2 linked regions of the Homo sapiens genome follow. The protein of the gene in region 1 purifies or fractionates together with the protein of each later gene. This does not show direct contact. Each region holds a gene or a part of one and is shown on either strand. Other genes may lie near its edges.

The links.
Region 2: the proteins of SGF29 (region 1) and TADA2B purify together in Homo sapiens (affinity purification with mass spectrometry; 8 studies listed by BioGRID and IntAct, with this or other methods). This does not show direct contact.

What each region holds. Positions count from the first base shown.
Region 1 is NC_000016.10:28,551,671-28,555,613, reverse strand, and holds the start of SGF29 (SAGA-associated factor 29), read right to left. Parts: upstream 1,695-3,943; 5' UTR 1,517-1,694; intron 1-1,516. UniProt on the Homo sapiens protein: Chromatin reader component of some histone acetyltransferase (HAT) SAGA-type complexes like the TFTC-HAT, ATAC or STAGA complexes.
Region 2 is NC_000004.12:7,046,372-7,049,971, forward strand, and holds part of TADA2B (transcriptional adapter 2-beta), read left to right. Parts: intron 1-3,600. UniProt on the Homo sapiens protein: Coactivates PAX5-dependent transcription together with either SMARCA4 or GCN5L2.

The sequences.
Region 1 (3,943 bases):
CTCTATAATAGTGTCACCCAATCCATCACAATAAATCTCTTTTAAAATAGCTATACAGTTGACCCTCAAACAATGCAGGTTTTAATTGTGCAGGTCCACTTATATGTGGATTTTCTTCCACCTCTAGAACTCTTTTTTGAGACAGGGTCTTGCTCTGTCACCCAGGCTAGAGTGCAGTGGCACGATCTTGGCTCACTGCAGCATCCACCTCCTGGGTTTAAGTGATTATTGTGCCTCAGCCTCCCAAGTAGCTGGGATTACAGGCGTGCACCACCACGCCCGGCTAATTTTTTAATTTTTTTTTTTTTTTTTAGAAGAGACTGGATTTCACCACGTTGCTCGGGCTGGTCTCAAACCCCTGAGCTCAGGCAGTCTGCCCACCTCGGCCTCCCAAAGTGCTAGGATTACACGCATGAGCCACCGCGCCTGGCCAGTATTTACATTTAAAATGTGAAACTGGGATTGCGGTGGCTCATGCCTGTAATTCCAGCATTTGGGGAGGCTTTGGTTAGGAGGACTGCTTAAGCCCAAGAGTTTGAGGCTGCAGTGAGCTGTAATAACACCACTGTTCTCCAGTCTGAGCAACAGAGAACGTGTCTCTAATAAAAACAAAAATGTGAGATGATGCCTAGGTTAGAATCAGCAGAGGAGAAGCCAGAGAGAGCAGAGGCAAAGGAAGAGAACGTTCAGCAAGCCAAATGAAAACAGTGTTTCAAGGAGGGGCAGTGATCCACAGCATCAAATGCTGAACAGGACTGAGACCTAACTTAACAATGCATTTGGCCACCTAGAGATCACTGGTGGCTTTGACAAGAAGCCTTTTTAGTGGAGTGGTGGAGACCAAAGCCTGACTAGAGGCTCAAGGGTTCAAGACTTGGAGGAGAAAAGGCATTAGTGAGGGTAGACTAAGGCCTTTGGCTGCAAACCGGAGCCGAGGAGGAGGTAACTGGAGGATAGCGAGGGTGAAGGAGGCTGTTTTGTTGTTCTTAAGACGGGCATTTTTTGGCCGGGCGCGGGGGCTCACGCCTATACTCCCCACACTTTGGGAGGCCGAGGCGGGAGGTTGAGCCTCCTGGGCAAACGACGAGCTGTTAGTGTATCTTGTTAAGAACTATATATATATACAAAATTTTTGTGCAAATCATAAAATAAGTGCTGGAGTTCGGGGCCCATCCTCTGTCCGCATCTTCGTGACCCGGGTCCGAGTACCCCACCTGGAAGCTGCGTCCGTGCCGAGCCCAGCGTGTCGCTGTTTCCCACCCTCGCCGGGGATGGAAGCACGCAAGCGCAGACCTCGAGCGGCCGGGCGCAGGGCCCGCCCTCCCCGAGCCCCGGCCCCGCCCTCCTCTCCCGCCCCCACCCCCACGAGCCCCGCCCCCCTCCCGCCCAGAGCGCGTGCGCACCGCCCCTAGAGCGCCGCCTCAGGGAGGTCGGGAGCCGCGGCGCGGAGGGAGGACTCAGCCCTTCGCTCCCGCGTTTCGCCGGAGGTCTCAGGCCACGGCCCGTCGCCACCTACCGAGTCCGGGACAAAACAAGCTCGTCGGGCTGGAAACTGCGACGAGGGGAGCAGGCGCGTTCCTCGAACCCTTTTTCGGAGTCTGCGGATGATCACAGACCTGCGTTCGAAGATTGGCGGCACGTCGAGAACCGCACACGCTTTTTTTTCCTTTTATGAGCGTAGTCGCGCGCGGAGGACCTTGCACGCATGCGTAGTCGTTCCTCTGTGACGTGACCCGCTGCCCCGTGGGAAATGTAGTTTTCACTTGGCACACCGCTCCGGCTCTTGGCGGAACCCTAATTTAACCAACCAAAGTGCTTGTGCGTTTTCAGCGTTTTCTCCCATTTCCCCAGACTCTATTTAAAACAAAATGCAATAAATAAATAAATAAATAAAACTTGAAAGCGAACAGATTGCTGCTTGCTGGAGGTGGGTGGGCGCAGGGGTAATATGAAAACTGTACTTTCTGCTCAATTTTGTTGTGAACCTAAAAATGCCCTAAAAAATAAAAGTCTGTTGTTAAAAAATTAATTAAAAACAGGCCGGGCGCGGTGGCTCACGCCTGTAATCCCAACACTGGGACGCTAAGGCGGGCGGATCACCTGAGTTCAGGAGTTTGAAACCAACCCGGCCAACATGGTGAAACCCCGTCTCTACTAAAAAATACAAAAATCAGCCGGGCGTGGTGGCGGGTGCCTGTAATCCCAGGTACTGGGGAGGCTGAGGCTGGAGAATCGCTTGAATTCAGGAGGCGGAGGTTGTAGTGACTGGAGATTGTACCATTGCACTCCAGCCTGGGTGACAAGAGGGAAACTCCATCTCAAAAAAACAAACAAACAAAAAACAAGCAGATCTTTAGACCCAGAAATCGCACTTCTAGGGAATCTTCTCAGGAAAGTACTAAGGATATGGACGTGCAATGGACATGTAGCCTCAATGGTATTTTATCGAAAGCCATCCTGGTATCTTAAAGTTTCTTACATAACCTACAAATGTCTGTAATTATTTGTTGATTATTTGATAAACTTGCAAGTCCTATGAGATTGGGATCATCTTGTGTTCACCTGTGTATTCCTAGTACCTAGCACAGTGCCTGGCCATCACATGTTTCTTTTTTTTTCTCTTTGAGACAGGGTCTCGCTCTGTTGTCCAGGTTGGAGTGCAGTGGTGCCATCAGGGCTCCTGAGTAGCTAGGACTACAAGCACACACCAGCACATTCTGCTGATTTTTAAATTTTTTTTGGTAGAGATGGGGGTCTTGCTATGTTGCATAGGCTGGTCTTGAGTTCCTGGGCTCAAGCGATCCTCCTGCCTCAGCCTCCCAAAGTGCTGGGATTACAGGCATGAGCCACCAACCTCAGCCCCGTCAGTATTTTTCTGTTTATTAGAGAATCTCAGGCGTTAGCACTGAAACTATGTTAACCCCAAAATTAATGCATCATTTTCTTCCATCACACTTGCAGTTCTTTCTGTGGGCGTCAGGTCAGTGAATGACATGCCCATCCACCCAGCTGCAGTTCTACTTACTGCCTTTTATGAAGGTTATGCTTTGAGGGATTTTGCAAATTTTGCATTTGTAAAGGTCTCAGGGGCTCTTTTTCCTGATTGTTAAATATCAGCCCTAGCTAGGCCAGGCGTGGTGACTCACGCCTGTAATCCCAGCACTTTGGGAGGCCGAGGTGGGCAGATCACGAGGTCAGGAGTTTGAGACCAGCCTAGCCAATATGATGAAACCATGTCTCTACTAAAAATACAAAAATTAGCTGGGCATGGTGGCACGCACCTGTAGTCCCAGCTACTCTGGAGGCTGAAGCAGGAAAGAACCACTTGAACCCAGGAGGCGGAGGTTGCAGTGAGCCAAGATTGCGCCACTGCACTCCAGTCTGGGCAACAGAGCAAGACTCTGTCTCAAAAAATAAATAAATAAAATAAATTTAAAAAATCAACCCTAGTCACTGATCAGGAGAGATGTAGAGCTTACAGTTGTTTTTTAAATTATTTTGGTCTCTGCCCTGTTTTAAAATTTTATCGTTAATTTCTGATTTTTCTACAATAAACATGTATTTATTAACTTTTTAAAAAGTGTTTTAGAGTGTTGTCCACATGTAAGGAATTGCTCTGTCTTCTCCACATCCACATTTCTCAAAAGAATCATCTATACTCAGTTTTCATGTCCCACCTCCTACTTAGTACAATGTCCTGAGCCAGCACCTGGGGGTTATCCCTGACATCACCCTTTCCCTCCCCTCCCTCATTCAATCCACCACGTGTCTGCAATATAAAAACACATTTGTTAGGCACTTGCTATGCACCGGGCACTGTTCAAAATCCTTTACACATATTCATTCATATAACACAATCCACCTACTTTTCACCTCCACCACATCCACCCTAGGCCAAAGTAGGGACATCTTCCCTAAACAACTGCAAAGGTTCTCTGTTTTT
Region 2 (3,600 bases), on another chromosome or scaffold:
GCCAGGCTCTTCCCATATGTGTCCTGTGGGATCTTCCTAGCAACCCTCGGGGGTGGGTTCTTATTCTTACAGTTGAAGAACAGCAGCTGTAAGAAACTAAGCGCCTTGTCAGGGATTCCATGGCATTCATGTGATAGAGCCAGGAATGAACGCAGGCCTATGTGATTCCAAAGCCTGGGCCCTAACCCATTCTGGGTGAGAGCATTAAGCAATGTGGGTCAGAGGCTGGGAGGCCATCGGTGCCACCGCAGGAGTGGCAGAAGGGCTTGACCTGATTCACTGGAGATTAGTGTGGAGGCAGGGCCTGGACTCATGGGCTGTGACTGTGAGTGTGGAAGGAGATGGTGTGGGGGCTGGCGACAGTGATGTGACGAAAGATGAGACCTGTTGAGTTCTACTTTCAGATGGCAAATGGTGACACCTGGCCTGGGGGTTGTACAACTACATGTGGGATTCATGGGAGAGGGTGGATTGTGGCCAAATCTGGCAGCTTTGTGGTCACATTTTGTACCAGGGCTGGGGGATGGGGCCTGAAGGGGACGGGATGTAGCTGAGCAGGGTTAACAGTGACACCTGGGGGCTTAGGGACAACCCGTGTGCTGGTGTGTATGTTTGATAGCGAGGGGCAGAGAGAACAGGTTAAAGGACCTTGGCTACAGTGGGTAAGAGTTGGCAAGCAGTGGCCTAGAGTCAGATTAGCGGGGTCTGGCGTCTCTAGAAGGCCGGTTTGTGATGGGTTCTGCGCAGGATTCCAAGAGTTAGAGGATGCAGGCCCTGCTGGAGCACAGGAACACAGACGCAAACACAGGTGACAGCTGAGGGCAAGTCGCAGTGGTGGCAGAGGAGCCGGAGCTGTTGATTGGTTGCCAAAGAAATTGGGCTGACACTGAGGAGCTTTAGGAGGGCCAGTGCTCCTCTGCAGGTGGTGGTCAGGAGGGCTTTGGCGGGGAAGTGGGGTTCAAGCTGGCCCTTGTGGTTTTGAATCAAATGAGCATGTGAAGTTCTCTGTGAACCATGGAAGGCCTTGTGCACACACGTCAACACTCAGGCTCCTTCTTGGAGCCAGGTGGGGTGTCCTGAGTAGAGCTGCACCCTTTGAGATGATGGTGGACACCCAGGAGGTGGCAGAAGGCCAGACACATCGATGGTCACTGCCTTGTGCGTGCATTCATTCTCTCGCTCATTCATTCAGTTAGCACAGCCTCGGGGCCTGGTGTGCGCCAGCCCCTGTGGTGAGAACAGGCTAGGAGGAAGACAGCTGCCTCACCTGGCAGGTGCCGTGTGGGCAAGTGGGCCTCAGGATGTCCTGCGGAGGGAAGGACACAAGATGGCTGTGCAGGTAGAGGAGAGTGTGGAGGAAGGAAGGGTTTTGTGTTTTAAGAGTCTGGTGTATTCAGGGCCAGGCAAAAGCCAGCTTGGGGTGAGGGAGGAAGCTGGTGAAAAGCCCTGGGTGCTGGGTACAAGAGTGTTGCTGGCTCAGGCTCTGTGATCACGCAGTGTCTGCTCGCCAGTGCCAGGCCCTGAGCAGGTGCTTTGACACGCGCCCCTCTCACCATCTCCCCGTCCCCTAATCCCTGAGACAGGTGCTCCCCACTTTTACAAACGAGGAAACAACTGTGGGTGATGTGGGAACGTGGAATTTCAACCCAAGGCTTCTGACTCCATGCCTAGAACCATCCGTTTCATTGTTCACCAGCCATGCCGCAGGATCCCCTAGAATTCCCAGGGATCCCCTGAGATCTGCTGGATTGTCACCTCTGAGGCCGAGGTCTGGAAATTTGGATGGATGGAAAGAACCCCAGGGAGCTGTGAGGCATGGTTGGGAACCATGGGAAGTGGGGACTTACCTTCCCCGCCGGGGCAGGAGCCTCCACTGTGCGGGCTTCCAGGGATGACCATTAAGGATGGCGGGAGGGGGAGGGAGAGCCCGGATGGGAGAGTGGCTGGGAGGGGCAGGGCACGCAGAGGTGGTCTCCAACTCCAGCCCACAGTGGGACACCCAGGATGCCTGGTTTACCTGAGTCACCCCCACCTCCCAAGCTGCTGAGTCAGGGGTGGGGCTTAGAATCTGCATTTCTAACAACCTCCTAGGTGCTGCTGATGCGGCCGCCGTGGGACCCCACTTTAAGAACCACTGGGGTAGAGTGGTAAGACATGTCACTTTATAAAACTTCAAAATTATTTAAAAATATATTGATTTTTATTGTGGTACAATACGTGTAACATAAAATTTACCATTTTAACCGTTTTTAAGTGTCTGGAAGCATTAAGTCCACTCCCAGTGTTGTACAGCCATCACCACCAGCCACCTCCAGAATTTTGTCATCTTGGCAGACTGAAACTCTGTCCCCATTCAACACTCACTCCCCCTCCCCCTTCCCCAGTCCCTGGCACCCCCATTCTACTTCCCGTCTGGCGCTAGGGACCTCAAATGCGTGGGTCCTGCAGGATTTGTCCTTTTCTGACTGGCGTATTTCACTTTGCCTCATGTCGTCAGGGATCATCCGTGTTGTGGCATGCGTCAGCACGGCCTTCCTTTCATGGCTGAACAATCCCTTGTCATCTGTGTGGCATAATGTGTTTATCTACATAGCTGTGACGGACATTCGGTTGCCTCCACCTCTTGGCGAATGTGAACAAGGCCGCTATGAAGATGGTGTTGAGGGATCTCGTCAAGTAAATAAAAGTGGAATTGCTAGGTTAGGTTCTGTGTGTAATTTTTTTTTTTTAAGGGTTTCGCTCTATCGCCCAGGCTGGAGTGCAGTGGCACAATCATGGCTCACTGCAGCCTCCACCTCCTGGGCTCAAGCGATCCTCCTACCTCAGCCTCTCAAGTAGCTGGGACTACAGGCATGTACCACCACACCCGCCTAATTTTTAAATTATTTGTAGAGACGGGGTCTTGCCATGTTGTTCAGGCTGGTCATGAACTTCTGGGCTCAAGTGATCCTCCCGCCTCAGCCCCCGAAAGTGCTGGGGTTAGGCTAAGCCTGGCCTTGTGTGTGATTTTGAGGAACCGCCCTGCTGTTTTCCACAGTGAGGAATGCCACTTTCAAAATCTCTGTCACAGTTAGCCTTATCTGACCTGAAGGTGTCAGTCACCTTGAGGGCCAATGACAACTCTAAGTCACTGAGGTCTCTGAGTTGAGAGAGACCTAGAACTGAGGCTTGCAGGGCTGCCCACTGGAACAGGCTGGGGGCAGTGGCCAGGGACAGTGGGGTCTCCGAAAGGTCTGACACCTGGAAGCAGTGGCTGCAAAGCCAGTAAGTCCCCAGCCTCTGGCATCAGAGGGATGCTTGTGCTGAGAGTTGAGCTGTTAGAGCAGGGAGGAGGGAAGGGGAAGATACAGGGGGTGACCCGGTGTCCTCAAGTTGTCTCTTTAAAGGTGACAGACAAGGCTGAAAGAGGGAAGAGCCAGGGGCCACCGCATGGCCGTGACTGAGTTGGTGTGCCAGCCCCGAGGGCTGTTGGCATCCCACGCCTACCTTTGCCCGGCCGCTCTGTCCTGCCGCTAGCTGCAGGTGGCCCTAGTTGTTGGCCCAGTGTCTGAGGCTGAGCTGAGACTGGAGGTGCTGAAGTGACTTTGCTGTGGAATGTGA